Linked DNA regions of Homo sapiens. The protein of the gene in region 2 interacts with the protein of the main gene of each other region in a pairwise test. Each region holds a gene or a part of one and is shown on either strand. Other genes may lie near its edges.

Evidence for each region.
Region 1: the proteins of EVI2B (region 2) and PGRMC1 interact in binary tests that used the Homo sapiens proteins (3 or more experiments, as listed by UniProt).
Region 3: the proteins of EVI2B (region 2) and NINJ2 interact in binary tests that used the Homo sapiens proteins (3 or more experiments, as listed by UniProt).
Region 4: the proteins of EVI2B (region 2) and TRAM1L1 interact in binary tests that used the Homo sapiens proteins (3 or more experiments, as listed by UniProt).
Region 5: the proteins of EVI2B (region 2) and SLC38A7 interact in binary tests that used the Homo sapiens proteins (3 or more experiments, as listed by UniProt).
Region 6: the proteins of EVI2B (region 2) and SCAMP4 interact in binary tests that used the Homo sapiens proteins (3 or more experiments, as listed by UniProt).
Region 7: the proteins of EVI2B (region 2) and SLC30A2 interact in binary tests that used the Homo sapiens proteins (3 or more experiments, as listed by UniProt).

Annotation. Positions count from the first base shown.
Region 1 is NC_000023.11:119,241,493-119,245,399, forward strand, and holds the end of PGRMC1 (membrane-associated progesterone receptor component 1), read left to right. Parts: intron 1-1,658; coding exon 1,659-1,762; 3' UTR 1,763-2,974; downstream 2,975-3,907. UniProt on the Homo sapiens protein: Component of a progesterone-binding protein complex. Binds progesterone. Has many reported cellular functions (heme homeostasis, interaction with CYPs). Required for the maintenance of uterine histoarchitecture and normal female reproductive lifespan.
Region 2 is NC_000017.11:31,303,332-31,307,897, reverse strand, and holds the end of EVI2B (protein EVI2B precursor), read left to right. Parts: intron 1-2,267; 5' UTR 2,268-2,288; coding exon 2,289-3,635; 3' UTR 3,636-4,128; downstream 4,129-4,566. UniProt on the Homo sapiens protein: Required for granulocyte differentiation and functionality of hematopoietic progenitor cells through the control of cell cycle progression and survival of hematopoietic progenitor cells.
Region 3 is NC_000012.12:566,345-570,235, reverse strand, and holds part of NINJ2 (ninjurin-2), read left to right. Parts: intron 1-3,891. UniProt on the Homo sapiens protein: Its role in unclear. In contrast to NINJ1 paralog, does not mediate plasma membrane rupture (cytolysis) downstream of necroptotic and pyroptotic programmed cell death.
Region 4 is NC_000004.12:117,082,525-117,087,395, reverse strand, and holds TRAM1L1 (translocating chain-associated membrane protein 1-like 1), read left to right. Parts: upstream 1-1,819; 5' UTR 1,820-2,002; coding exon 2,003-3,112; 3' UTR 3,113-3,842; downstream 3,843-4,871. UniProt on the Homo sapiens protein: Stimulatory or required for the translocation of secretory proteins across the ER membrane.
Region 5 is NC_000016.10:58,670,995-58,675,560, reverse strand, and holds part of SLC38A7 (sodium-coupled neutral amino acid transporter 7), read left to right. Parts: exon of another isoform or gene 1-27; intron 28-218; coding exon of another isoform or gene 219-247; exon of another isoform or gene 248-311; intron 312-3,317; coding exon 3,318-3,465; intron 3,466-4,316; coding exon 4,317-4,516; exon of another isoform or gene 4,517-4,566. UniProt on the Homo sapiens protein: Symporter that selectively cotransports sodium ions and amino acids, such as L-glutamine and L-asparagine from the lysosome into the cytoplasm and may participates in mTORC1 activation. The transport activity requires an acidic lysosomal lumen.
Region 6 is NC_000019.10:1,914,856-1,919,421, reverse strand, and holds part of SCAMP4 (secretory carrier-associated membrane protein 4), read right to left. Parts: intron 4,444-4,566; 5' UTR 4,403-4,443; coding exon 4,396-4,402; intron 1,729-4,395; coding exon 1,600-1,728; intron 1,296-1,599; coding exon 1,139-1,295; intron 534-1,138; coding exon 432-533; intron 1-431. UniProt on the Homo sapiens protein: Probably involved in membrane protein trafficking.
Region 7 is NC_000001.11:26,038,870-26,043,118, reverse strand, and holds part of SLC30A2 (proton-coupled zinc antiporter SLC30A2), read left to right. Parts: intron 1-410; coding exon 411-570; intron 571-1,313; coding exon 1,314-1,419; intron 1,420-3,207; coding exon 3,208-3,342; intron 3,343-3,813; coding exon 3,814-3,959; 3' UTR 3,960-4,249.

The DNA.
Region 1 (3,907 bases), on a different chromosome or scaffold from region 2:
GTTTTCTATATGAAACCAGTGAATTGTAGTGTCTAACTTACAAAGCTCTATTTTCTAGGGCTTGCCTTCATCAGTGGGAGAAAAAGTGTGATTTTTTTTTTCCACTTTAAGGCTAGCCCCAGATGCTGTTGTGACACCTCAGCTACACTTAAAGTTGGTGTGGATTCCCCTTAAGGCAGGTTTCCCAGGAGCCACCTGGCTTTTATTTGTCTCACACAGTTCCAATTGTTCCCAACGGTTATTTCACACAAAAGCAGCTTTAGTTACCTGGTTAGACAGGTTGGTTACTCCTCTAATTCCTACTCATATTCAGGAAGAGGAGACTCTTGGCTTTGGACATTCAGATGATCGACCCTGCATTAGTTTGGCTACAGTGATGAGGTGGTTTGCTGATGCCATCTCTTCTCAAGTCTTTTGCATTCTGGTTTGCACCCTTACATCTGTTTTCTCCAACACCTCCAGTCATCTCCTGGCTCCTTTACCACTTCCTTTAACCACCCATAGGTTTTTCTCTGTGCTGGGAAAAACGTTCTGTCTCTTGCTCTCCTCTTCATCTATGAGACTATTATTCCTTCCTTTCACTGTCAAACAAACTTCTTACAAGTTTTTATTCCTAACCACTACTTCATTTCCTCTCTATACCTTCTTCCTCCCTACAATATGGCTTCTATCCCCACAATTGGATTGAACTCTCTTTCTGAAAGATTTTCAGGGAAACCTTTTTTTTTTTTCTTGCCAATCCTGACTTCACTTGTCCATTCCATGTTTTAGATCTCCTGTCATGTGAGCCTCCAGAATGGCTCCCTCCACAGAGTTCCCATTTTGGTCCATGGGAGCTCCAATTTTCACTTAATTAATTCATGCTTCCAGTTTTCTTTCAAAGTACTTCTCATCTGTCCCTTTCCATTCCCCTGGACACCACCCTGCTCCTGGCGCTGGTTCCTTTGCATCTGGATCTGCACTCTGCCTCTGGATCGCCCTGTTCCCAGTCTCTCCTTACTGAAATCTGCCCTATACACCACATTGATAATATCGTTGTTAAAGCACTATTTTACTGTGTCATTCCTTCGCTTATAAACCTTCAGTGCCCTTTGCCACCTATAAGTCCAAACTCAGGCTGGCTTTTCAGATCTTTCATAATATTTCCCCACACTACTTAGCCAATCTTATCTCCTACTAACTTCTAAATGTTAACTCTACTCCTGCCAACTTGGTCTCTTCATTGCTTCCCAGATACGTTGTCTCACCTGTATGCATTTGTACATGGCGTTTGCATTTTCTGGAACTCCCTCCCTAAATCCTTCTATACATTTTTCCAAAATATATCCTCCTTCCATGAAGTATTCTGTAACCCTTCTGATGAACTCATCACTTGCCCTTGTTCTTCTAAACATTCCTTACACACAAACAATTCATTTTGACGTTACCTTGCACACTCATTGCCAGACGTTGCCACCTGTTTTATATGTCTGTCTTCTGAACAAAACAAATTCCCTGTTGGCAAGGACGGTGGTATAAACCACCTTTGTATCCTTCAAGAAGCCCAACACATTGCTGAGTATATTGCAGGCCTCTAATAAATGCTTTAAATTGAAACGTGGTAATGATGTTTTAGAAAGAATGAGAATGACCATTTGTGTTTTCTTCTCTACCTCCAGTCAAGTATCATCACGTGGGCAAACTGCTGAAGGAGGGGGAGGAGCCCACTGTGTACTCAGATGAGGAAGAACCAAAAGATGAGAGTGCCCGGAAAAATGATTAAAGCATTCAGTGGAAGTATATCTATTTTTGTATTTTGCAAAATCATTTGTAACAGTCCACTCTGTCTTTAAAACATAGTGATTACAATATTTAGAAAGTTTTGAGCACTTGCTATAAGTTTTTTAATTAACATCACTAGTGACACTAATAAAATTAACTTCTTAGAATGCATGATGTGTTTGTGTGTCACAAATCCAGAAAGTGAACTGCAGTGCTGTAATACACATGTTAATACTGTTTTTCTTCTATCTGTAGTTAGTACAGGATGAATTTAAATGTGTTTTTCCTGAGAGACAAGGAAGACTTGGGTATTTCCCAAAACAGGTAAAAATCTTAAATGTGCACCAAGAGCAAAGGATCAACTTTTAGTCATGATGTTCTGTAAAGACAACAAATCCCTTTTTTTTTCTCAATTGACTTAACTGCATGATTTCTGTTTTATCTACCTCTAAAGCAAATCTGCAGTGTTCCAAAGACTTTGGTATGGATTAAGCGCTGTCCAGTAACAAAATGAAATCTCAAAACAGAGCTCAGCTGCAAAAAAGCATATTTTCTGTGTTTCTGGACTGCACTGTTGTCCTTGCCCTCACATAGACACTCAGACACCCTCACAAACACAGTAGTCTATAGTTAGGATTAAAATAGGATCTGAACATTCAAAAGAAAGCTTTGGAAAAAAAGAGCTGGCTGGCCTAAAAACCTAAATATATGATGAAGATTGTAGGACTGTCTTCCCAAGCCCCATGTTCATGGTGGGGCAATGGTTATTTGGTTATTTTACTCAATTGGTTACTCTCATTTGAAATGAGGGAGGGACATACAGAATAGGAACAGGTGTTTGCTCTCCTAAGAGCCTTCATGCACACCCCTGAACCACGAGGAAACAGTACAGTCGCTAGTCAAGTGGTTTTTAAAGTAAAGTATATTCATAAGGTAACAGTTATTCTGTTGTTATAAAACTATACCCACTGCAAAAGTAGTAGTCAAGTGTCTAGGTCTTTGATATTGCTCTTTTGGTTAACACTAAGCTTAAGTAGACTATACAGTTGTATGAATTTGTAAAAGTATATGAACACCTAGTGAGATTTCAAACTTGTAATTGTGGTTAAATAGTCATTGTATTTTCTTGTGAACTGTGTTTTATGATTTTACCTCAAATCAGAAAACAAAATGATGTGCTTTGGTCAGTTAATAAAAATGGTTTTACCCACTATAGTGTGGTGACTTATTTAAATTTTTTTAAAAACCTTATTCTAGGGAATCTGATTCAGACATTTTACTTTGGCTTAAAATTCAGTTTCATTTTTGAGTGCAGAGTTTTTGTATTCCAAAAGAAACAAGGGGCAAAATTTCATGGAGACCCCACACCAAAAACCAAATACCAGCTTGTCCTGTTTAAGAAATAGTGAATTGAATTGCTTTTTTTGTGACTTGTCAAAGTTTTGCCTAAATCAGAACTTTCTAAACTGTAAATGGCAGACCTCCACCTTGAAGTCTATAGCAAGGTTCTTAAGAAGTAAGGTTACTGAAGGCATTGTCATTGCCAAGTGCTAAGGAAGGGTTTGGGTTTTTTTGTGTTAATGTATTGTCTGATCAGGAAAGTATCAGGAATCCTTACAGTAGCAAAGTTAATTCACCTCGTGTCAAAAGAAGCATAACAGATTTGCATATGCAGTCAGTTGTATAAACAAAGACAACCTATTAGTGTTTTGTCATTTTAATGTTAACATTGGCAGAGTTTTCTTATAAGAGATATACTTCCTGAACCAAAGAAATTTCCATTTTTCATGTTATCAAACCACATTGCAGGTACTTGTGAGTTTTTTTTAATGTGCTCTTTTTTTTTCCCACTTGGTTTCATTCACCAAATGTTTGAGTGCCTGTTTTGTGCCATGTAACCTGTTATGCCTTATGCTTTGGAGAAGGAGTGGGGGAGAGAAGTTGGGCCCACCTTCGCAGCCTGAAATCTCATGTGCATGTGAAGATTAGGCTACTCATTTTGCAAAGTTAAACAGGCTTGTCTGCTGCCAAGAGGAAAATATCCAGAGCAAGCTTGTCCAACCCATGGCCCACGGGCTGCATGCGGCCCAGGAAAGCTTTGAATGTAGCTCAACACAAATTTGTAAACTTTCTTAAAACATGAGGT
Region 2 (4,566 bases):
ATGCTGAAAAGGTAATTTGTAAAACCTTTATTGCACCTTCCAACAGAACATCAAATCTCTCTAAATATAGGCTTATGAGTCAGAAGAACTATAGTTTCTAATCATGTATACCAATATCTAACACCCTAAGATTTTCTATTCCCTAATGTTAAGAGATAACCAAATAGTTGCCATTGTGTTTGATGATGTGCAAAACAAGTATATTATACCAAAAGTTGCAAATTGTCTCAGTAGAACTCTTCACTTTAGAGGAAAGGCAATTGAGAACAGGAAAGGTTAAGCAACTAGTTCTCATGGTTAGACAGGTAGTTAGATGGGAGAAGTAGAACTGAAACTTAACTCTCCAAGTTTTAGCATCTACCACATCCCAGAAAAAGCCCTATCTGCCAAACTTTCATATGTGCCTTATTTTCCTGTGCCCACATTGTTGCTCTCCCTGGCTGGAAACTTAATTAGTTTTTATAGACTTTTAAAATTCAGTTCAAGCTTTACTTCACTGAAGCCTTTCCAGGCTAGGTTAACTTCTCTGTACATCTCCTGCATACTTTTATGAGAAAGCTTATCAAATTATTGTAATTGGGCCAGGCGTGGTGGCTCACACCTGTAATCCCAGCACTTTGGGAGGCCAAGGCAGGCAGATCACCTGAGGTCAGTTCTCGAGCAGCCTGGCCAACACGGTGAAACCCCGTCTGTGCTAAAAATACAAAAATAGGCCAGGCGTGGTGATGTGTACCTGTAATCCCAGCTACTTGGAGGCTGAGAGAGGAGAATCAGTTGAACCTGGGAAGCGGAATTTGCAGTGAGCCCAGATTGTGCCACTACACTCCAGCCTGGGTGACAGAGTAAGACTGTCTTGAAAAAAAAAAAATTATTGTAATTATTTTTTAGCTTTTTTTCTTTCTTCTTTTTATTTAGAGATGGGATCTTACTATGTGGTCCATGCTGTTCTTGAACTCCTGGCCTCAAACGATCCTCCCATCTTGGCTTCCCAAAGTGCTGGGATTACAGGAATGAGCCACTACGCCTGGCCTTTACTGTTTGCTTCTATCACTAGAATCTGAAACACTTAAAGGCAGTGACTATCTTTTTTTTTTTTTTTTAATCTCCTAAACCTAGAACAGAGCTCCACACAAATGTGGCATTTACCAATAGATGAATGAAAGCAGCAGCAGGACTACTTGACCAACTGGATTGAATTTACTCCACCAGATTCAGAGATCACTCTAGGATTTTAAGCCTAAGACTCTGAGTTGAATGAAATTCTTTAAAAATATGCAATATTAACATAAGGCTACCACGCTACAGAGACACTAAGGATGCTTCAAAGATTACTAATAGACTCTGTGCCTAAGAAACTTAGTGGTACCATTAACAGATACAGAGAAGTTGGGAGAAGAGTCAGTTGTCAGTTGTGAGGGTAAAGATGAACTCCATTTTAAATATGTTGAATTTGCTGATAGTGGGAGATATTTATATCTATATCTATGTCTATCTATCTATATATATAAAATATGGAAAAATCCACCAAGAAGTCACACAAATAGAATTAGGACAAAGAAGATGTAGGCTGGAGGTACAGGTTTAGGAATTGTGGCATAAAGCTGAGAACTAAAATCTTACAGAATCAGGAACAAAGAAAAGTAGGTAAGGGTGAGGACAGAATATCAATTAACCATATTTAGGAGGCAGAAGAAAAAGAGCTAGTGAGAGTAACATGAAAGGAAGACTGATTACAAAAAGCTACTTGAATATTAGTGAAGGAACAGTAGTGTCTAATGTGGTCAAGGAGGGGAGGGGAGAGAAGAAATAAAGAACAATTAGATTAGGTAACAGATGATCACTGGTGTTCTTCAAGGCAGGAGAATCAATATATTTCTAGTAGAAAATGGTGAAAAAAGGTAGAGAACACATGGATCCAGCATATAGAGCCTATGCGTTTTGAGAAGTATGACTAAGTGAAGTACTGAAATATAATGAAGCTAGAGGGGCAGCAGAGCCAAGTACAGAACTTGTATTAATAAAAGAAGAGAGATCACTGCTTATGAGGTCCAAATGCTGTATGATGGGTTAGAGTATATCCAAGAGTTGTTACACCAAACCTACAGTGTATCAAGTCTAAATTAGGAATAATAACTACTAATCAACTACTACTAATTAGGAATAATGTCTACCTACTTTATGCCAGGAATCATAATGAAAAGTCAAATTTTTAACTAGACACCAATGACGCCTAACTGTCTTTCTCTTTCATTATAAACCCGCTATAGATAACGAGGAAATATTCTGAAATGGATCCCAAATATTTCATCTTAATTTTGTTTTGTGGACACCTGAACAATACATTTTTTTCAAAGACAGAGACAATTACAACAGAGAAGCAGTCACAGCCTACCTTATTCACATCATCAATGTCACAGGTATTGGCTAATTCTCAAAACACAACAGGGAATCCTTTGGGTCAACCAACACAATTCAGCGACACTTTTTCTGGACAATCAATATCACCTGCCAAAGTCACTGCTGGACAACCAACACCAGCTGTCTATACCTCTTCTGAAAAACCAGAAGCACATACTTCTGCTGGACAACCACTTGCCTACAACACCAAACAACCAACACCAATAGCCAACACCTCCTCCCAGCAAGCCGTGTTCACCTCTGCCAGACAACTACCATCTGCCCGTACTTCTACCACACAACCACCAAAGTCATTTGTCTATACTTTTACTCAACAATCATCATCTGTCCAGATCCCTTCTAGAAAACAAATAACTGTTCATAATCCATCCACACAACCAACATCAACTGTCAAAAATTCACCTAGGAGTACACCAGGATTTATCTTAGATACTACCAGTAACAAACAAACCCCACAAAAAAACAATTATAATTCAATAGCTGCCATACTAATTGGTGTACTTCTGACTTCTATGTTGGTAGCTATAATCATCATTGTACTTTGGAAATGCTTAAGGAAACCAGTTTTAAATGATCAAAATTGGGCAGGTAGATCTCCATTTGCTGATGGAGAAACCCCTGACATTTGTATGGATAACATCAGAGAAAATGAAATATCCACAAAACGTACATCAATCATTTCACTTACACCCTGGAAACCAAGCAAAAGCACACTTTTAGCAGATGACTTAGAAATTAAGTTGTTTGAATCAAGTGAAAACATTGAAGACTCCAACAACCCCAAAACAGAGAAAATAAAAGATCAAGTAAATGGTACATCAGAAGATAGTGCTGATGGTTCAACAGTTGGAACTGCTGTTTCTTCTTCAGATGATGCAGATCTGCCTCCACCACCTCCCCTTCTGGATTTGGAAGGACAGGAAAGTAACCAATCTGACAAACCCACAATGACAATTGTATCTCCTCTTCCAAATGATTCTACTAGTCTCCCTCCATCTCTGGACTGTCTCAATCAAGACTGTGGAGATCATAAATCTGAGATAATACAATCATTTCCACCGCTTGACTCACTTAACTTGCCCCTGCCACCAGTAGATTTTATGAAAAACCAAGAAGATTCCAACCTTGAGATCCAGTGTCAGGAGTTCTCTATTCCTCCCAACTCTGATCAAGATCTTAATGAATCCCTGCCACCTCCACCTGCAGAACTGTTATAAATATTACAACTTGCTTTTTAGCTGATCTTCCATCCTCAAATGACTCTTTTTTCTTTATATGTTAACATATATAAAATGGCAACTGATAGTCAATTTTGATTTTTATTCAGGAACTATCTGAAATCTGCTCAGAGCCTATGTGCATAGATGAAACTTTTTTTTAAAAAAAGTTATTTAACAGTAATCTATTTACTAATTATAGTACCTATCTTTAAAGTATAGTACATTTTACATATGTAAATGGTATGTTTCAATAATTTAAGAACTCTGAAACAATCTACATATACTTATTACCCAGTACAGTTTTTTTTCCCCTGAAAAGCTGTGTATAAAATTATGGTGAATAAACTTTTATGTTTCCATTTCAAAGACCAGGGTGGAGAGGAATAAGAGACTAAGTATATGCTTCAAGTTTTAAATTAATACCTCAAGTATTAAATAAATATTCCAAGTTTGTGGGAATGGGAGATTAAAATGCATGTTTGAGAATAGAGAAATTTTCTTCTTGGTTTCATTGCAAAGAGTAAAACAAACATGTTAAAACATCAACTGAAGGGTTGGGTTAGGAACATTTACCCTGAAAAAAATATGAGGATGCATCATAAAATGTAAATATTTTCCTACCATGTTGGGGGGGCACAAATTTTAAAACTGGCATCTTTACAAGTTTCTTCTTTATAAACACCCAAACAAAATCAAGTTTTATAAAGCAAAAAAAAGGAAAAGAAGACTATGGCTTCATTCTAAATACGGGTGACTTTGGGTGATTTTTTTTTCAGGAAAAGAGACTATCAAAACACAGATGATTCTCAACTTTTTACTAAACTTATACTTTCTGATGCTATCCACTCTTAAGTCACCTTTCTTACACAGAATTTCATCTTTATCCATTATCTGACAATTGGTAAGTCTGAGTTATTAGAGTAGGAAT
Region 3 (3,891 bases), on a different chromosome or scaffold from region 2:
CTCACTGCCGGCCCTTCTGCCCGCCGTCCCCTCGGCTGCAGGTTGTGCTGGAGGCCCCTCCCTTCTGGGTCCCCCCACCCCACGCTGGCTCCATTTCAGCTTCGGTTGATTCTCGAACTCTGGCTTGACGCACGCGTTTGGTGGGTTTTAGTTCGGCCCATCCAGACTTGCGGGCGAGGCTCCCGTCCTGGGCCTCGGAGGGGTCCAGGTTTCCCATTAATCCCGTCCTGCGCGTGGGTTCCTCGGGGTGGAAACGCCCCCCGGCAGCCGCGGCGCCCAAGTCACGTCTCTGGACCGCGCGCGCCACCGTGTGGACACTCTGGAGCAGGCGGGGACACCCTGATCCCGCCCAGCACCCGCAGTGAAAGGCAGGCCCGAGTCGGCCCCGCATTTAGCGAGGAAAGGATGAGGCGCACCCCCTAAGCACACTGCGAGCCTCACGTCCTCTGTGAAGCAATGGCTCTCAGATTAATGTAACAACAAAAGCCAACCAGCTCTGTTAAAACTTACAAATGGCAATACCTTCCATAGAGGTTGGGAAGACCTCCGTGCTGCCCGTGTACTCACCCCTGCCACCCCCTGCCACCCCTTCCCCCACTATTTGGTCAGTGCTCAACACATGCCACTAGAGGTTTGGGTTTAAGGTTTTGTCCACTGTTAACGATACATTTGGGGGGAAGGGGGTCTGTCTCCCTCTGAGCTAGACCAGGAAGGAGGAGAAAGGGCAAAGCTTGCTGCTACTGCACAAACTGGAGGATGGGGAAGAGACAGGAGGGGTGGCACAGCCATGGGGCAGGGAGGCCAGGGGGCACAGTTGAACCTGGGCAGAGACACTTTGAATTTGGGTGCAGGGGGTGAGACTCTCTTGCCTAATGAGTGCTCTTGGAGACCGAGGACAAACCTTCACCAAATGGGCTAAGACCACAGGTTGCAGCCTTGGGGCTGACGGCGACCATGGGCCTTTGTGAAGTGTTGGCCCTGGGATCCCTGGCCCTAACCAACCATGCCAGCTGGCCCTAGACAAGCCAGCCTTGCTTGAACTGGATTTCCAAAGGCCCTGAACGCCGTGTGTGGCCTCCCAAGTCCATGCAGGTCCTCATTTACCCTCCATCCCTACCTCCTCCAACCTCACTGGCTGCCCCCAGCACCAGCTGAAACCCCGGCCCCAGCAAAATCAAACACGAAGGAAGATGGGAGAGATAGTGAGCACTCCATTCCTTTCGTGCCTATGGCCTTTTTTCTTATTTCTGTGGGCCCTGGGCCCCAGCCTGATTTTGGTGGCTGTCAAAAGGAGTTTGCCAGGGCCTGTTGTGAGCAGCCTGTGGCCCAGTGCTTACCCGGGGGGCGGGGGGGGGGGGGTGTCCTCACAGCCCCAAGCACCGCCTGGCATGTACAGTCAATCTATTGAATGAATGCTACCCGCTGGTCTCCATTCTACTCTCCCAGAGAAAGTGTTTAAATTGCTCCACTGGCCAAAGTGCACACTCCTGATTACCCTCTGTGAGTCCTGCCCCGTCCAGAAGTTGAGGACACTCGGAATCTCAATAATGAACAACCCAGGTGCAGGGAACTGCCCCGTGTAGAAAGCTGATGGCCTGGAGTGTGGTCAGAGTGAAAGAGCCACTCCTATATGTTTGATCCTCCAATGACTGGTCCACAGAGTCAGAGAGGGGCAGCCTGCGGGGCACAGGCTGCCAGGGTGGATTCCATCAGAGCAGGTGCTGTTAGCACCCATGACCACCCTGTGCCTCTTGAATGTGTCTGTGTGTGTGCACCCTCCTGGCAAACAGAGCAAAGGGCCAGGAGCTTGGAAAGGAAGTGAGAAGAGCAGGGTGGAGACGTGGGGCTGAGTTTTGAAGGCAAACGTTAGGAGAAGGACTGGGGAAGAGAGGCTCCCTTCTGTTGGCCTAGGAGAGGATTGGTCCAATCTGTAGCCAGGCATGTGGATTAGAGCTGGATCTCCAAAGACGAGTGCCCAAGACCATATTTTAGGATAAGAAAATTAAACTTCTATTTATATTGAATTTTATGTAATCCTTTCAAATGTTTCTACTTTTGCATATTTTACTATATATATAATTAGTCCAATAAAAATATGTATAGTTGATAATGGAAGAATGTACATATATTGAGGATGCATGGCCAAAACAGTTTTTAATGCTGAGATTACACTATCAAGAAAGTCTGGAGACTACTGCATTTCAGAGTTTTGTTTTTGTTTTTGTTTTGAGACAAGAGTCTTACTCTGCCACCCAGGCTAGAGTGCAATGGTGCGATCTCTGCTCACTGCAACCTCTGCCTCCTGGTTCAAGTGATTCTCCTGCCTCAGCCTCCTGAGTAGCTGGGATTACAGGCGTGTGACACCATACCCAGCTGATTTTTTTGTATTTTTAGTAGAGACGGGATTTTGCCATGTTGGCCAGGCTAGTCTCAAACTCCTGACCTCAAATGATCCCCCTGCCTTGGCCTCTCAAAGTGCTGGAGTTACGGGCATGAGCCACTGCACCCAGCCTCATTTCGGGGTATCCTAAGGGCTCATAGAATCCAAAGGTTCTGATAGATAGGTAAATCAGTTAGCCTATGTGTAAATCAACTGTCCTCTGTGTAAATCCCTGAGGTACAGAGAAGTGAAGTGACTTGCTGGGGCTGCACGAAGTACAAGGAACATTCCAGACCCTCTGAGACCTGCCTATCCAATCATCCACGCATCCATCCATCCACCCACCAATCTCTCCATCCATCCATCCATCCCTTCATCCATGAAGCTTTATTTTATACTTCAAAACAAAATCAAATGTAAATTATGCTTCAATAAATCCTAGCCAAAAAAATTAAAAACAAATTACGAGTGTTTAACTGGTATGCATCACTGTGCATATATAGGCACGCATCCATCTATCCATCCATCTGTCCCCACGCAGCAGGTATCTGTCCTGTCGTGGTGATCTGCTGGGTCATCTTCCCTACCTCCAGGCCATAGCATCCTTCAATCCATCCGTCTCTCCCCACTCTGCAGGTATCTGTCCTGTCATGGTGATCTGCTGGGTCATCTTCCCTACCTCCAGGCCGTAGCATCCTTCAGAGTCCTCCATTCCTTCCTGTCTCACCTTGCTCCACTTCAGTTCCTTTTCACCCTGATCCTAAATCAATACTATAACTTTTAAATGACTCTCCCTGCTTCTAGCCCTTCCTGGCCCAGTCTGTTCCAAGCACCACTGCTAAATCAATCTTCCAAGTACTCTTGAGTGACTGCAGATTGCCCTTGGTCATGGCGCCCAGTCTGAAATTCTTGGCCCAACCCAGAGGCCCACAGCATATGCCCTGTATTGTGATTCTGTCTTTTGGAGTTAGTGGCTTCTGGAGAAGCTTTAGTAAATTATGCTTCAATAAATCCTAGCCAAAAGTAATAATTAAAATGATGTGAGTGTTTAACTAGTATGCATTACTGTGTGTATACACTCATGCATGCATGCATGTGTATGCTGAGAGCCTGTGTCTGACAGCGTGTGTGCCTGAGCAGGGCGGCAGCTCCAGTGCTCCTGAGGGTTGGAAATCCAGCCGATGATCAGCTGCTGAGCTGTGCACCCTGCCTTGGGGGCCACAGCATTATGCGAGAGGAGGTGCCTTTCTCTATTTCACCCAAGCCTCCAAGCTCTTTTTATTGTCTTCTCAGGTGCTTTCCTCTCAGAGGAAAAGAACACAGCCCAAAGCTGAGGCCTGGCCCAGGTAAAATAGTGAATAGGGTGAGGAAGGTGCATTTTACCAGCAGCAGAGAACCCTCCCGGCTTTCTCCAGCCAGATGTGTGAAGGTGTGAGGGAAGGGGTGACTCTCCAGGAAGTATCAACTGCAACAGAATGTCATTTCAGAGTGCAGAGGTCCTTATGGGTTTT
Region 4 (4,871 bases), on a different chromosome or scaffold from region 2:
GACTATTACATGACAAAGACAAAGATAAACAGTATTACGTTAACACTATTTGGCTTCTAGTGTCTTTTATCTTTTAATATATGCAAGCCAACATACAGAAACAAATCAACTTATAATATTTAATCCATGTTTTAGGGAAAAAAATCTTTCACCATTTCCTAGAAAGGAAGATTGGACTCAAACCAAAATCTAGGAACTTTACCTGGATGTATCTTATAGTTATTATTGATTATTGACTGCTGTGTGCATCCATTTTCTCACTCGTAGATGGAAGTGTCTGTTGCATTTTTCCTACGCTTTGGGTGTGTGGGAGCCAAAAACTTTATTCTTTTAGTTCACAAGTCTTCAGACCAAGAGTAAGTACAACAAAGGATAGGACTTTCCTTTATCTGCTCCTGGATCTGATTTAGCTTACAAAAATATCCTGTGTAAGAAGCCTGAACCTGATGCTATATTGATATGAGACTATTGTTTGCATTGGAAGGAAAAAGTGTATATTTCATGTCAGAGGAAACAAAATTTATTCCCAACGGAAAGGATGTGGCTATTTTTAAAAAATTAGCAAATACTAGGTACATTTCTCATTAAAAGTTGATGTGTATGGTCCACACCCTCCCCTCCATCCTCACTCCACCTTGAAGTAAAACAGGCTTGTGCCTACCTTGGTATTGAAAATTATATAATATAACTTCTAATACTAGGTCATAAAAGGCCATTTACTTTCTGTCTTGCTTGCTAGAAATCCCACTTTTGGAGCATTAAGCCACCCTTTCATGCTAATGCCAACAATGCACCTAGAGGCCATAAGTAGGCATTCTGGTAGACAGTCCTAGAGTACCTTAACCTTTTCAAGGCTTCTTATAAACTTTGTGTTTATAAGCATGAATTAGCTTTATCCTTAGGGCAAGTTTAGCCTTACTTAAAACAGTGTAGCTTTCCTTGGATCTTGTCTGAATGTTGCAAGTGTTCAATGAGGATTCTACTTTCTGGCTGTTCCAGTCTTGAAAGTTTCCAAATCCTACGTGAAGTCTTGGGAAACTTCAATTCACAATTCCTCCATATATGCAAAACCTACACAAATGACATATGAGGTTCTTTTCTGTTATAATGAAGAAATTAAGTTTTGAGCTTTGTAGCCAAAAAGAGACCTTTCCATGAACTAATACATCTCTCCCTCTAAGTGCCAGTCTTTCAAAATACTGGCTAGACGTTATCATTTCAAACATTATTATTATTGCAAATAGGGGAACTAGTTTTAATATGCTATCTTGTTGACCTAGTAAATATTTCCAGGTATAATTGATTTACAATAAGAGACAATACAGCGTAATAGTGAAAAACAGGCGCTCTGGAGCCGGACTGGATTTAAATCTTTGCTCTAACCCTTACTAGGGAGGTGAATTTGGCCATATTACTTAACCTCTCTGTGCCTCAGTGTTTTGTCTCTTGAAAAGGGGTGGGGGAGGGGAGATTATCACAGTATCTACCTCACTGGGTGTTTCAGGAAAGTTAAATTCATAAATATAAATAAAATGCTTAGCACAGCAACTGGTAATTAGTACTGGGAGTTTGCTGTTATTATTATGCTATTGTTGTTATAATTAATGATCTGAAGAATAACCAGAGCTCTATAGGTTTATCATGATTACTAATGAAGATGCCACTAAAAAAAAGAATTCAGGAGCATCTTGGCGGTGGCAGCGAGTTTGAAGATGCGACGATCAACGTTGAAGATCACCGCTCGCAACCCCGGGCCTGGCGCCGGGTAGGGGCGCGGCGCTCGATTTCCTTCCCTGCCTCCGCCGTCCCCCTGGTGCGCATGCTCAGCTCAGCTCGGCCCTCGCCTTTGATTTATTTTTTTTCTGGGCGGCCGCTGCGACCCGGGACTGACTTCGGGATGGGAAGTGGAGCCCCCGGAGCTGCTACCGTGGCGGCGGCGCTGTGAGGAGCAGCCAGGGGGAGGCAGCTGCGGCTCGCCGGTGAGTATCCGGGAAGCGCCACCATGGGGCTCCGTAAGAAGAGCACCAAGAACCCCCCCGTTCTCAGCCAGGAATTCATCCTGCAGAATCATGCGGACATCGTCTCCTGCGTGGGGATGTTCTTCCTGCTGGGGCTTGTGTTCGAGGGAACAGCAGAAGCATCCATCGTGTTTCTCACTCTTCAGCACAGTGTTGCTGTCCCTGCAGCAGAGGAACAAGCCACGGGCTCAAAGTCCCTCTATTATTATGGTGTCAAAGATTTGGCCACGGTTTTCTTCTACATGCTGGTGGCAATCATTATTCATGCCACAATTCAGGAATATGTGTTGGATAAAATTAACAAGAGAATGCAGTTCACCAAAGCGAAACAAAACAAGTTTAACGAGTCTGGTCAGTTTAGTGTGTTCTACTTTTTTTCTTGTATTTGGGGCACATTCATTTTAATCTCTGAAAACTGCCTGTCAGACCCAACTCTTATATGGAAGGCTCGTCCCCATAGCATGATGACATTTCAAATGAAGTTTTTCTACATATCCCAGTTGGCTTACTGGTTTCATGCTTTTCCTGAACTCTACTTCCAGAAAACCAAAAAACAAGACATCCCTCGTCAACTTGTCTACATTGGTCTTCACCTCTTCCACATTACTGGAGCTTATCTCTTGTACTTGAATCATTTGGGACTTCTTCTTTTGGTACTGCATTATTTTGTTGAATTACTTTCCCACATGTGCGGCCTGTTTTACTTTAGTGATGAAAAGTACCAGAAAGGCATATCTCTGTGGGCCATTGTGTTTATCTTGGGTAGACTTGTGACTTTAATTGTTTCCGTACTCACTGTTGGGTTTCACCTGGCTGGATCGCAGAATCGGAATCCTGATGCCCTTACTGGAAATGTAAATGTGTTGGCAGCTAAAATTGCTGTTCTGTCGTCCAGTTGCACGATCCAAGCCTACGTAACATGGAACTTAATTACTCTCTGGCTTCAGAGGTGGGTAGAAGATTCTAATATTCAGGCCTCATGTATGAAAAAGAAACGGTCGAGATCTTCTAAAAAAAGAACAGAAAACGGAGTGGGAGTGGAAACTTCAAATAGAGTAGACTGTCCGCCAAAGAGGAAAGAGAAATCTTCATAATCTTTGCAAGCGCATTGATTAATGTCTGCAAAGGAATCTGCTCTTTGAGGTTTCTTTCTGCACTAGAGATTTTTCTGTTTTTGAAAATAGTTCGTGCTCTTCGGTTTTTGTTATTGAACTGTTTCATGTATTTTTTAAAGACATTTGAGGGGAGGAGGATTATTATGAATGGGAAAAAAAGATTTTGGTTGAGACTAAATTACTCATCGTCAAAATAATGTCAAAATAGTTTTGGGGATCACCACTATATTTTGTTTTGATTTTTAACCTTTCAACATTTTCCTAATGATTTGCAGAGATAACTGCACAATTTTGCATATCAATGATACTGGTTCTTACTCCCACCAGTGTTTCATAATACTAACAAGATGGTCTCTCCTAGCAAGATTATGTGTTTAATGCTTGCTTTGGGGTAAAATAAAAGTACGAAAAAGGTGGAAGTCAAATCAGTATTCTGTAATTGTTAGAATTTATTTTTTAAGAACTTACAACTCAGAAAAGATTGCTAGACTCACCAAAATAATAAATGTTCTTTATTTTACAGGTAGTGATTATTAGTGCTTCATCCCCATTTAAAAAAACACAGTACTAATGGGTAACACATATGGAGGTTTGCTGCCATATATATTGCATCAAAATATCATTAATTAATATAAAAATATTAAAATCATTCCTGTCCATTCCACTTGTAAATGGGAATTCATGAAATTAAATATTACTTTAAAAAGGACATTGAACTTAGTCTTTTTTAAAAATGTTTATTAAAAATGATTCCTAATGAGGCCTTGTAAGATCAGTAACCACAGCATCTTAGAAAAATATTGTTTGTATACCAGGTTGAAAAATAATACTTGGCATGTGTATAAAAAAAGTCAGCTAATTACATTTGGAAAGCATGTTATGCATCAACCTTCAATAAGTTGAAAATCAGATAGTCACATGAAAGGCTTTTGAAAAATAATGTTGTGATTATTTGTCTTCATCTTTAATTGGGGAACATTTATCTGTATAAGACATATTTTGAAGATTATTTACATACACATGTATGTATAATCTGTATCTTTGCAGAAGCCAATGGAAACAATGGGAATTAGTGGGTGAGTATTTATACGTATTGCCTCTCAATCCTTATTTCAGTTTTATTTCCATAATGTGTTTATATAATTTTTCAGTAAGACAGTACTTTACAAATATGCTAGGGGAAGGCCATATATTTCCTATTCCGTTATATTTTCTCCTACTATGTCTCTCATCTCTAAATATTTTATAGCCAGCCCTCTCTTTGGTTTAAGTAATTCAACTCTCCCAAGCATGGAGGGCCCTCAAAATCAAGTTTAATGCTTTTATTACAGATCACAGACAGAAGAGCCACTCTTGGTAAAACATTCCTTTCTGTCTGCTTTCAGAAGTAAATATCAAAGCAAGATTTCATTTTTTAAATATAGAATCCATCATCTTACCTATTTTTGTTTTCAGTTACTGAATACTGTAATATTGGTAGCACATGTTGTAAGGTCCAAAGTAAACCAACTTTATGCAACTGAAAAACAAAGATTTTTACCTTCTCGTATGACAGAGAGTTCTTTTTTTAAAACCATTCTAGCCCATTACCTGTAACCCCACTCCTGGTAAGAAATGCCCTATATATTGTATACTTCTTTACAAATAAGTGCAGATCTGACTCAAACTGGAAAAATAAATTACAGAAAAATTATTATGTTACATGATTAACAATGCCAAGAGTTAAATTTGGCTTAGC
Region 5 (4,566 bases), on a different chromosome or scaffold from region 2:
AATAGGGAAGGTGTGTTTTGTTTTATTCTATTTTATTTTGTTTTGAGAAAGGGTCTCAGAAACTGTCGCCCAGGCTGGAGTGCAGTGGCATGATGATAGCTCACTGCAACCTCAACCTGCTGAGGTCGAGTGATCCTCCTGCCTCAGCCTCCAGAGTAGCTGGGACTACAGCCATGTGCCATTGTGCCCAGCTAATTTTTTTTTTTTTTTTTTTCTAGCAGAGACAAGGTCTCACTATGTTGCCTAGCCTGGTCTTGAATTCCTGGGCTCAAGCAATTCTCCTGCCTCGGCCTCCCAAAGTGCTGGGGTTACAGGCATGAGCCACCAACCCAGCCTAAAATGGGGAAGGTATGAATGGGACTGGATGGGTGGCTTTGGGAGTGGTTCACAGAAGGTTCTTCTCAGAGAAGGCCCAAATGATGAGAAAGAGCCAGAAGAGGAGGAGCTGGGGAAGAAGGGTTCCAGGCAGAGGAACCACAAAACACCAAATCACTGAGGCAGGGCCAGGAAGAAAGTCTATGTGGCTGGAGTGGTGTGTGATGGGGGCAGGTGAAGGCAGTGAGGCCAGACAGGCACTGGCAGCCAGATCCTGTTGGGCCTCGAGGGCTGCTGGGAGTCATCGAGGAAGTGTTTTAAGCAGGGGGGTGGTTCGGGGAAAGGTGGCTCTGGCTGCCGTGTGGAGAGTGGTTGGGGTGAGGGAGCAAGTCTAGGAGACCCTGGAAGAAGGATCCCCTGAGTTCTTTCCACGGATAGACCGTAGGAGCTGCCTGGGCCAATACTGTTCTAGCCTCTGAATACACAGCCAGGAACAAGAGAGGCAAACAGCCAAATCCCTATTCTCCTGGGGCTCATGTCCTGGCTGGGGAGACAGAAAATAAGCCTGTAAAAATTAATTACTATTATTATTGTTATTATTTTTATTTGTATTATTGTTTACTTAAAGACCAGTGTGATAGTACAGTTAAAAAAAAATTAGAAAGCGATGAGGCCAGTCACAGTGGCTCACACCTATAATCTCAGCTATGGGAGGCCAAGGTGGGAGGTTCTCTGGAGCCCAGGAGTTCAAGACAGGCTGGGCAACATGGTGAAACTCCATCTCTACAAAAAATTTAAAAATTAGCCAGGTTATGGTAACATGCACCTGTGGACCCAGCTACTTGGGAGGCTGAGGTGGGAGGATCGCTTGAGCCTATGAGATCAAGGCTGTAGAGACCCATGATCATGCCATTACACTCCAAACTGGGCAACAGAGTGAGACCCTGTCTCTAAAAAAGAGAGAAATGAGTGTTAGGGGACAGGCCCAGTGGATCATGCCTGTAATCCCAACACTTTGAAAAGCTGAGATGGGAGAACCGCTTGAGGCCAGGAGTTCAAGACCAGCCTCGGCAACATAGTGAGACTCATCTCTACAAAAATTAAAGAATTAGCTGGGCGTCCGCCAGGCATGGTGGCTCACGCCTGTAATCCCAGGACTTTGAGAGGCCAAGGTGGGTGAATCACTTGAGGCCAGGAGTTCGAGACCAGCCTGGCCAACATGGCAAAACCCTGTCTCTATCAAAATTACAAAAATTAGCCGGGCGTGGTGGTGGTGCCTGTAATCCCAGCTACTCGGGAGGCTAAGGCATGAGAATCACTTGAACCTGGGAGGCCGAGGTTGCAGTGAGCCAAGATCGCGCCGCTGCACTCCAGCCTGGGGGAGAAAGTGAGACTCTGTCTTCAAAAAAAAAAAATTAGCCAGGCATGGTGGCATGTGCCTGTAGTCCCAGTGACTTGGGAGGCCAAGTCAGGAGGAACTTGAGTCTAAGAATTCAAGACTACAGTGGAACTATGATTGTACCACTTCACTCCAGCCTGAGTGACAGAGCAAGATCCTGTCTTTAAAAAAAAAAAAAAAAACGGCCAGGCACTGGGGCTCACGCCTGTGATCCCAGCACTTTGGGAGGCCCAGGCAGGCAGATCACATGAGGTCAGGAGTTCGAGACCAGCCCAACCAACATGGCGAAACCCCATCTTACTAAAAATAAAAAAATTAGGGCTGGGCGTGGTGGCTCACGCCTGTAATCCCAGCACTTCCCGAGGCAGGCGGATGACGAGGTCAGGAGTTCGAGACCAGCCTGGCCAACATAGTGAAACCTCATTTCTACTAAAAATACAAAAATTAGTCAGGCTTGGTGGCGGGCGCCTGTAATCCCAGCTACTCGGGAGTCTGTGGCAGGAGAATCACTTAAAACCAGAAGGCAGAGGTGGCAGTAAGCTGAAATCGCACCACTGCATTCCAGCCTGGGTGAAAGAGCAAAACTCCATCTCAAAAAAAAAAAAAAATTAGCCAGGTGTGGCGGCAGGTGACTGTAATCCCAGCTGCTTAGGAGGCTGAGGCATGAGAACCCAGGAGACCAAGATCATGCCATTGTACTCCAGCCTGGGCATGACAGAGCGCGACTCCATCTCAAAAAAAAAAAAAAAAAAAAAAAAAAAAATTAGCCGGGCATGGTGTAATCCCAGCTACTCAGGAGGCTGAGGCAGGAGAATCACTTGAACCTGGGAAGTGGAGGCTGCACTGAGCCGAGATCGTGCCACCGCGTGCCAGCCTGGGCAACAAGAGTGAAACTCCATCTCAAAAAAATAAAAAAGAAGAAGGCTGGGTGTAGTGGCTCACACTCTGGGAGGGTGAGGTAGGAGGATTACTTGAGCCCAGGAGTTCAAGACCAGACTGGGAAACGTAGCAAGACCCCATCTCTACAAGAAAATTAGCTGGGTGTGGTGGCATCTGCCTGTAGTCCTAGCTACCTGGGAGGCTCAGGTGGGAGAATCGCTTGAGCCGAGGAGGTCAAGGCTGCAGTGAGCCATGATCACACTACTGCGCTCTAGTCTGGGTAACAGGGCAAGACTCTGTCTCAAAAAAGAAAAGAAAAATAAGACAGCGTGATGTGAGAGAGTGCCTGGGGTGGGGGTCATTGTAGATGGACTGGCAGGAAGCATTCTCTGAGGAAGGACATCTAAACTGAGACCCAAATGATAAGGAGATGGCATCTGAAGGTCTGCCAGACAGAACAGTCAGTGCCAAGGCACTGAGGTGGGAATGTGCTGGGCAAGTTCAGGCTCAGAAAGCTGGGGGCTGGAGGGCTTCCAGCGATGGGGGATCTGAGAAGTCAGGGAGGGAGGCATCTGATCGGAGCCCCATCTCCCACTCTGAGCCTCCGTCTAAGTGTCCAGAGCTGCTGCTGCAGCCTCCAGGCTGATGTTGCTCCTAGGAGGAGTGGACAGTCCACCCCACTACCCTCCCAGGGTTGCCCTGACCCAGTTGTCCCTGCCCACAGGCATCTGTGGCTTCCTGACCTTTGGAGCTGCTGTGGATCCTGACGTGCTCCTGTCCTATCCCTCGGAGGACATGGCCGTGGCCGTTGCCCGAGCCTTCATCATCCTGAGCGTGCTCACCTCCTACCCTATCCTGCACTTCTGTGGGCGGTGAGCCCCCTTCCACTCCCCAGGGCCCCTCCTAGCCCCTGTGAGCGCTTCCAACATGGTCCTTTGGCCTTGTGTGGACCCCATCCTGTAGAAGGAGAAACTGAAGCCTGTAGAAAAGAGTCGGTGCCTAGGATGGGTCCCTACATATCCCAGGCCAGGTGTCAGAAGCGCCCTTTGTCCTGGGGTCACCAGAACATTCCGTGAGTCCTGTAAGAATCTCTATCCATGGCATGGCACGGTGGCTCACGTCTCTAAACCCAGCACTTTGGGAGGCTGAGGCAGAAGGATCGCTTGAGCCTGGGAGTTCAAGACCACCTGGGCAACCTAGTGAGACCCCATCTCTACACAAAATAAAATAAATAGCCAGGTGTGGTGGGATGCACCTGTGGTCCCAGCTACTCAGCCACTTGGGAGGCTGAGGCAGAAGGATGGCTGGAGCCCAGGAGTTCAAGGCTGCAGTGAGCCAAGATTGCACCACTGCACTCCAGCCTGGGTGAGAGAGCCAGACCCTGTCTCAAAAAAACAAAAAACAAAAGAATCTCTATCCAGATCCTTTCCTGAGCTTTCACATGGACACCCTCCCCTTTGGATGCCCCAGACAGTTCCTTTTAAGGAAAAAACAATATCAGTTTCCATGTGATGTAAAGCAAAGTGCTAAGCTCTCGACATTCACCGTCTCTAGTCCCTGTGGTAAACAGAGTGCTGGTGGCCCATTTTACAGAAGAGGAAACTGAGGGTCAGGAATGGGGCTTTCCCCGCAGTCTACCCAGTTAGGGGTCTGGCTCCTGTGAGCTAGAGGTGGGGAGCTGCTAGCAGCAGGGGCACCTCTAAGCCCTTCTCCATGTGGGCAGGGCGGTGGTGGAAGGCCTGTGGCTGCGCTACCAGGGGGTGCCAGTGGAGGAGGACGTGGGGCGGGAGCGGCGGCGGCGAGTGCTGCAGACGCTGGTCTGGTTCCTGCTCACCCTGCTGCTGGCGCTCTTCATCCCTGACATCGGCAAGGTGATCTCAGTCATTGGAGGCCTGGCCGCCTGCTTCATCTTCGTCTTCCCAGGTGCGGACCCCTGGCGCCCCATCTCACAGCCCCACAGCACAGACTCCCAG
Region 6 (4,566 bases), on a different chromosome or scaffold from region 2:
TGTGAGTTTCTCAGGTGTGGTAACAGCACCAGGTATGTGTGTTTTTACAGATGTACAGGTCTTCCTCCTGCAGCGATCCGTGCAGAAACATCAGCAGCCAGGAACTGGCTCCCAGACCCCGGGTCAGGGGTGTGATCAACACTCAGGAGACAAGCCTGGCTGGGCGCTGGCGAGGACGCAGGCACTGCCAGGGCGAGCTCGGACCCCTCCCTAGGAGAGTGCCTACAATCGCGAACCATGGCTGGGTGCTGGCGAGGACGCGGGCGCTGGCGAGGACGCGGGCGCTGCCAGGGTGAGCTCAGACCCCTCCCTAGGAGAGCGCGTACAATCCCGGACCAGCACGCTCCGGTGGCCGCCTGGCTTCCCAGCAGGCCCACAACCTGGCAGCTGAGCCACATCACAGCCACCACGCCCATCAGAGAGAGGCTTACCACGCGCCCCAGCCGGAGAAGCCAATCGCCTGGATGACGGTCAGGACAAACTGGGCTCCGAAGATGAAGAAAAACGCCATGAAATTAAAGGAGCTGTCGGCTCTGGGGAGGGACAGAAAACACGACGGTTACCACAGCCCTGGCTTCTCCCAGACGCGCCTAGAGAGGAACGGGCCAGTCAGAGATGGTGAGAGCGGAGGCTCTATTTTATTCCTTTTTTTTTTTTTTTGAGATGGAGTCTCACTCTGTCGCCCAGGCTGGAGAGCAGTGTCGAGATCTCGGCTCACTGCAACCTCTGCCTCCCGGGTTCAAGCGATTCTCTTGCCTCAGCCTCCTGAGTAGCTGGGATTATAGGCGCCCGCAACCACGCCTGGCTAATTTTTGTACCTATAGTAGAGACAGCGTTTCACCATGTTGGCCAGGCTGGTCTTGAACTCCTGACCTCAGGTGATCCGCCTGCCTCGGCCTCCCAAAGTGCTGGGATTATAGGCCTGAGCCACTGCACCCAGCCAAAATTACTAGAAAGCAAAACAAAACAGACAGTAGTTGGCTCTGGCTTGTGGGCCACAGTTTGCCACCCCCAGATGTGAACTGTCTTTCACACTGGGCAGAGAAAGGGACAGCTCCTCACAGCTGGGCTGGGACTGGGGTGCAGAGTGGGCCCTGGTTCCCTCTGGGTGCAGACGGCCCCCGGCAGCTCTGCTCACCGGAAGGCCTTGTAGACAGGCCGGAACCAGCACACGTAGCCGCAAGGCGTGAACAGGAGCAGCCACACGAAGGCCAGGCCGAAGTTGGTCCCCGAGCCTCCGCCGATCCACCAGGCCAGGCAGGCAATGAGGTTGACGCCGAGGGTGGCGCAGTAAACTGCGAAGAGAGAGGGAGGACGGATGAGCAGGCACGGGAGGGTGTGGCCGTGGGAAAGCATGGGCCCAGCAATGGGGCACCCGCTGTCCGCCTCCCCAGCCCAGTGACCCCATGTCGAGGATGAACTGTGCAAGCCAAGACACTGGGGCCTGGACACCAGCCTCGTTCACCGCAGGGACCACCAGGCCCAGGACGGCTTCAGTAGACGGTGGGCCCCCGACGGGCTGCCCCTGCCTGAATGCCACTCCCTCCCTCGGGGAGCCCTGCCTCCCGCTTCCCGCCTCCTGCCCCCAGGCGCACTCACACATCCACAGCCGGTAGATCCTCTTCACCAGGACCTGGTGCTCCACTGGGATCTCGTCGGAGAAGTTCTGGTAGAAGCAGGGCTTCACAGGGATGAACTTGGGCAGTGGCGGGAAGTTGTTCTCCTTTTCTGTAGGGACAGAGAACCCACGGACAGAACCAGACTTTGTCTCTTGAAGGAGGCCCCACCTCATCCCTTCGACCCAAGGCTGGGTTGCCTCTCATGGCAGAAGGGACTCTGCAGTTGGGATTGAGGGCAGGACGCTGAGACAGGAGAGGGTCCTCGTGGCAGCCTCACGAGAGGAGACGGGAGGGTGGGAGTCAGAGAGAAACGGGAAGAGGCTGCGCTGAGGCTGTGAAGGGGGAGAAAGGGGCCCTGAGTGGAGGGATGGGGGCGCCTCTAGACGCTGGGCAAGGCGGGAACCGGCCTACAGCTTGATGTTAGCGTTTCTGGTCTCCAGAACTGTCAGATAACTGATTTCACTGTTTTAAGGAACTAAGTTTATGACTCTTTTTTTGAGACGGAGTCTCGCGCTGTCTCCCAGGCTAGAGGGCAGTGGTGCGATCTCGGCTCACTGCAGCCTCTGCCTCCCAAGCTCAAGTGATTCTTCTGCCTCAGCCTCCCAAGTAGCTGGGATTACAGGCGCCCACCACCACACCCGGCTAATTTTTGGATTTTTCTTTTTAGTAGACACGAGGTTTCACCATGTTGGCCAGGCTGGTTTTGAACTCCTGACCTCAAATAATCCGCCCACCTCTGCCTCCCAAAGTGCTGGGATAACAGGCGTGAGCCACCGCGCCCGGCCGAAATTGTTTTTTAAATTTACGTGTCACCCTTCATGCAGGGCCCTGCTACTCTTCGTAGCCCTCCTCCATGTTTAGTGTGGGTGCGGCTGCAGCAGGCTGCATTTAGTATCATTCCCTCCGGCAGGCAGGGACGCCAACATGCAGGCTCAGCAGGCCGAGTCCGCACACTGCGGGGAGGCTGTGGCCTGGGGACGCTTCCGTTCCCCATGGCTGCTGTGAGAAACCACCACCGACTGGGAGGCTTAGAACAACAGAAACTGCCCAGGTGTGGGGGCTCCCACCTGTGATCTCAGCACTTTTGGAGGCTGAGGCAGGAGGGCTGCTGGAGCCCAGGAGTTCCAGATCAGCCTGGCAACCTAGCGAGACCCCAACTCTACAAAAACTACAAAAATTAGCCAAGCGTGGTGGTGCGTGCCTGTGGTCCCAGCTTCTCGGGAGGCTGAGGCAGGAGGATCGCTTGAACCCAGGAAGTTAAAGCTGCAGTGAGCTATGATCACACCACTGCACTCCAGCCTGGGAGAGACCCAGACCCTGTCTCAAAACAAAACAAAGAACACAACAAATATTTATCTGCTAACAGTCCTGGAGGCCAGAAATCTGAGATCAAGGTGTCTCAGGAACGCGCTCCCTCTGCAGGCTCCGGGGAAGGAGCCTTCCTGCCTCTCTCAAGCAGCTTCTGGGGGATCCCAGCGCCCTTGGCTCATGGCCGCATAGCTCTGGCCTCTGCCTCCATCTCCACGACGACTCCTCCTGTATCTCCATGTCTTTTTTTTTTTTTTGAGATCCAGTCTCACTCTGTCACCCAGGCTGGAGTGCAGTGGCGTGATCTCGGCTCACCACAACTCCGCCTCCCAGGTTCAAGCGATTCTCCTGCCTCAGCCTCCCAAGTAGCTGGGACTACAGGTGCTGTGCCACCATGCCCAGCTAATATTTTTAGTAGGGATGGGGTTTCACTATGCTGTCCAGGCTGGTCTCAAACTCCTGACCTCATCATCTGCCCACCTCGGCCTCCCAAAAGTGCTGGGATTACAGGCGTGAGCCACCACGCCCGGACCATCTCTTTTTTTTTTTTCTGAGACAGTCTCGCTCTGTCACCCAGGCTGGAGTGCAGTGGCCCGATCTCGCTCACTGCAAGCTCCGCCTCCCGGGTTCACACCATTCTCCTGCCTCAGCCTCTCGAGTAGCTGGGACTACAGGCACCCGCCACCACGCCCAGCTAATTTTTTGTATTTTTAGTAGAGACGGGGTTTCACCGTGTTAGCCAGGATGGTCTCGATCTCCTGACCTCGTGATCCACCCGCCTCGGCCTCCCAAAGTGCTGGGATTACAGGCGTGAGCCACCGTGCCCGGCCTCCATCTCTTCTTATAAACACAGCAGGCACTGGGATGAGAGCTCGCCCTGCTCCAGTACTTTATCTTAACTCCATCACGTCCGGAGTTAAGGCCATATTCCCAAATGAGGTCCCACTCACAGGTTCCAGGGATCAAGATGGGAACACAGCCTTTGGGGCACTCAGCGTGGCACTGGGAGCCCCCCAGGAGCTTCTGCTCAGCCAGCACTGCCTGAGGAAGTGTCCCTGGGCGCCTGCGAGGGCCAGATGGGGAGTCAGACAGCAAGAGGCCCTGTCCTCAGGGGCTTACGCCCCACTGGGGAAGGCTGCCAGTAAATGAGTGGGTGAGGGACCCCGGGGCACATGAGAACACGCCCGCTGCTATAAGGAAAGAGCAGCTGTGATGGCAGGGGCACCCGGCTGGGCTGTGCTTCGGGTCAGTGAGGCGTCCGAGCGGATACACAGGCGGCTCTGCTGTCCTTTGCCCCCAGCAGAGGCGTGACTCCAGCTGTGCTGGGCTACGGGACCCGAGGAGTCAGAGGCCAGGTGGGCCAGGAGGACACTGTTTGCCAACGGCCAGGACCGAGGGCTCCTGTGGGAACTGCTGGCATCTCCCTCCCGCCCACGCTGCTGGAGGCTCCCAGGCAGGCAGGACTCACCTGACATCTCTGTTTCACCAACCAGCGCAGGCTGAAGCCTGCAGCCGCCTGGAAGGAAGACAACCACAGTCAGGGAACCCTGAGCTGCCCTGGGCAGAGCGCTAACCACCCACCCACCGTGGCTGAAAAGCCCTTCATCGTGCCCTGTGCTCTGGAAACAGCAGTGGGCTA
Region 7 (4,249 bases), on a different chromosome or scaffold from region 2:
CGGGAAGAGGCCAGTTGTTGCAGGAGTAGCTGTCCCTAGGGGCAGAACCCAAGTCTGAAATTGGTCTCAGTTAGAGACAATGGGTGTCTCTTTCGGGGTCTTTGTTCAGAGGCCTCAGTTTCCCCATCTGTGACATGATGGAGTGAACTGACAGTGACCTCCCTAATGCCCTCCTGCTCTGAGATTTGACACTGTGGCATTGTTGTGCCCAGGCTCAGCCTGGCATTGGCGCTGGGCCCTATCTCTCATGGCTGTCTGAACCAAGGCCACGTGGGTTGGACTTCTCACATGGCCAAAGAGATCACAAGGTTTAGGGGCTTGAGATTTTTGCCCTACAAGTTGGCTAGTCCTAATAGGTGACCTCCATCTGCGACCTCAGTGAGCCCTTGGCTTTGTCTCCACTTCCATAGAATGGGGTTGACCCTTCACCAGTCTGGCCATGGGCACAGCCACGGCACCACCAACCAGCAGGAGGAGAACCCCAGCGTCCGAGCTGCCTTCATCCATGTGATCGGCGACTTTATGCAGAGCATGGGTGTCCTAGTGGCAGCCTATATTTTATACTTCAAGGTCAGAGCTGGGACACAGGGTGGTGGGGGTGGCAGGGGAGTGTAGACCACCTGAGTATACTCTCTACCGGGGTTTCTTTTCAGATTCTAGCTCCCTCCCAGTTCTAGGGAAAAGGGTGGGGAGAGGAAAGGAACATTTATCCAATACCTACCAAGTGTCAGCACTTCTGATCCTCACAACAACCTGAAGGGTAGGTGGTAGTGTTTTCTGTAGCTCAGAAAGGTTCAGTGACTTGCACAGTGTCACACAGCCGGTAAAGCATAGAGCCAGATTCAAGCCTACGACTGTGTGTTGTCAAACCCTGGGCAATGCCCATCACATAGAGGCAGGGAGCTGTAGTGGAAAGAGGCAGGCATTTGCTCTGAAGCTTGGCTCTCCTCCTTGCTAGCCATGTGACATTGGATGAGTTTGCTTGCTCTAATGGAGCCTCAATTTCCCCATCTGTCAAATGGGGACGGATGGCGGATCAGATGGTATCTAAGATGCCTTTTTGCTCTGTCCATGTCTCAGCTCCTTGAGAAGGAGGGGTGGGAAGGGACTGCCTTATTCTGAACTGTGGTCTGTCCTTTCTGCTCTTGCAGATGTGAAATAAAGAGCAGAAAACTGGGAGGCAGGGCCAGGGCGAGGCTCATGCCCACCCAGCAGAGAGAGCACCTCTCCCCAGCAGTGCTGGGTGGGAGGGGAGAAGGGAAGCTGAGGTGTTAGATGGTGAACTCCAGGTCTGCCTTCCTGTCTTCCTGCAGCCAGAATACAAGTATGTAGACCCCATCTGCACCTTCGTCTTCTCCATCCTGGTCCTGGGGACAACCTTGACCATCCTGAGAGATGTGATCCTGGTGTTGATGGAAGGTAACCTGGGCTTTGTGGCTCCCTTTTTGCTCTTGGCTCTCAAGCGCTAATCAGCTCAAATAGGGTATGTGTGTGTCTGGGGCATCCTAGCACATGGGCGGGGAGCCAGGATCCGGAGCCCCGGCATAGGCTGGAAAACCTCCTGGGGCCCCTGGGCTGATCTTGACATAGAGCCTGGGCTTTCAGGTGTGGCAGTTCCTGGAACCGTCCCCCAGCCCGAGTCTTCCCTTCCCCCTACCCCTAAGGGTGCCTCCTCTGCCTAGTCAGGTGGCTTCTGGGGGACATCTGTAGCATCTGGAGCTCTCCAGCCCTCCCCTATACACTTCCCCAGGCTCTGGCTGCCTTCTCTCAGGAAGAGAGAGGGGGTGAGGATTATGCTTCTCATTGCACAGAGGGGCAGACTGAGGCTCAGAGAAGGACAGTCAGCCTTGGACAAAGCTACTGAATCCACTGCAGCGCAGGCCTTTCCTACATCTCAGGGACCAAACAATGCCACACCCTGTGGGGACATGGCTGTGCTTTGTGGGGTTGGAGAACGGTCAGTGGTGGAGAATGATCTGGTCTGCCCTGAATTACCTTTTTTTTTTCTTTTTTCTTTTTTTTGAAACAGGGTCTTGCTCTGTCATCCAAGCTAGAGTGCAGTGGTGCCACCAAGGCTCACCGCAGCCTTGACCTCCTAGGCTCAAGTAATCCTCCTGCCTCAGCCTCCCAAGTAGCTGGGACCACAGGCGCATGCCACCATGTCTGGCTAACTTTTAAATGTTTGTAGAGATGGGGGGGGGGTCTCACTATGTTGCCCTGGCTGGTCTCGAACTTTTGGGCTCAAGCAATCATCTCACTTCGGCCTCTCAAAGTGCTGGAGTTACAGATGTGAGCCACCACACCTGGCCCTGCACCTTGGCTTTCTTATGCTCTAGGCCTGGGGTCTTGGGCCAGGGTCATAGGCCTCTGCGTGGTCAGGGTCAGTCTGGAATGGAGTAGGATGCTGGCCTGGGCTTAGCAGTATTTGGCTGCAGGTCAGAGCTTTTTCTCCAAGAATATGCTAACCCAGATGAAAGCGATAATGATGAAGATGATGATCGTGCCCTGGGTGGGTCCAAGGATTCTCAGGATCTGTTCTTTCCTTCTTTCCATTCAAAAATATATTTATTGGCCAGGTGCGGTGGCTCACACCTGTAATCCCAGCACTGTGGGAGGCCGAGGCAGGCAGATTACCTGAGGTCAGGAGTTCAAGACCAGCCTGGCTAACACAGTGAAACCCTGTCTCTACCAAAAATACAAAAATTAGCCGGGCGTGGTGGCATGCGCCTGTAGTCCCAGCTACTCAGGAGGCTGAGGCAGGATAATTGCTTGAACCAGGGAGGCAGAGGTTGCAGTGAGCCAAGATCACGCCACTGCACTCCAGCCTGGGTGACAGAGCAAGATTCCGTCTCAAAAAAAACCAAAAAATATATTTATTGAGCACCTACTATGGAGTAGGTGCTGTTTTAGGCACCAAGGATACTGTGGTAATCAAAGGAGACTGTCCTGCCCTCATGGAGTGTCCATTTTAGAGGGAGAAACTGACAATAAGTACATTCATAAATAATTTCAGTGTTAAGAGTGGAGAGGAAATACAACAGAGTGATAGGGCAGAGACCTTGGGAGGTGAAGGCAGCCTCAGACCTGCAGGCCAAAGAGGTCTTCTTTGAGGGGATGACACCTGAGGATCAGGAGCCAGCCCTGCACCAATGGGCAGGCGTGGGAGGGGTAGTTTCCTTTAGTTTCCCCTGTCCTTGCCGTCCTCAGGGACCCCCAAGGGCGTTGACTTCACAGCTGTTCGTGATCTGCTGCTGTCGGTGGAGGGGGTAGAAGCCCTGCACAGCCTGCATATCTGGGCACTGACGGTGGCCCAGCCTGTTCTGTCTGTCCACATCGCCATTGGTGAGTGCTTGGGACACTCAGGGTGGGGTGGGAGACAGGCAGCCAAAGGCCTAGTGCCATCCCCAACGGGTCCAGGTGACCCCAGATGCTCACAGTGCCCATGCATCAAGCCCAGCCTCATGCTGAGTACTTGATACGCATTATTCCATCTGATCAGCACAATCTCATTTATCCATGAAGAAACTGAGGCTGGGGTTGGGTGGTAAAGTTACTTGCCCAGGCTTTTACAGCTAGTATATGGCAGTAGGTGGCAGATTCCTGGCCTTAAGGCCAGTGCTTTACCAGCTCTTTCAGGCATGAGCCAGGTCTGGGCTGGGAGGCTACCTGGCAGAGGAATGGAATCTGGGGGCTTCTCCATGTTCATGGTCCCCCATCCTGTTCTGCTGGGGATGGGGTATGAGATTTGGGCTCCTGATGGTTCCAAAGGGCCAGAGTAAATGGCTTCCCCCGCTGTGTCCTCTCGGCCCCCAGCTCAGAATACAGACGCCCAGGCTGTGCTGAAGACAGCCAGCAGCCGCCTCCAAGGGAAGTTCCACTTCCACACCGTGACCATCCAGATCGAGGACTACTCGGAGGACATGAAGGACTGTCAGGCATGCCAGGGCCCCTCAGACTGACTGCTCAGCCAGGCACCAACTGGGGCATGAACAGGACCTGCAGGTGGCTGGACTGAGTGTCCCCCAGGCCCAGCCAGGACTTTGCCTACCCCAGCTGTGTTGTAAACCAGGTCCCCCTCCTGACCTCTGCCCCACTCCAGGAATGGAGCTCTTCCCAGCCTCCCATCTGACTACAGCCAGGGTGGGGACTCAGCGGGTATAAAGCTAGTGTGACCCTGCTCTTCCAGCTCCTGGGCCAGCTCTGGAAGGGCTGTATTTGGGCCTAATCCTCAGCAAATGTTCTACCACTC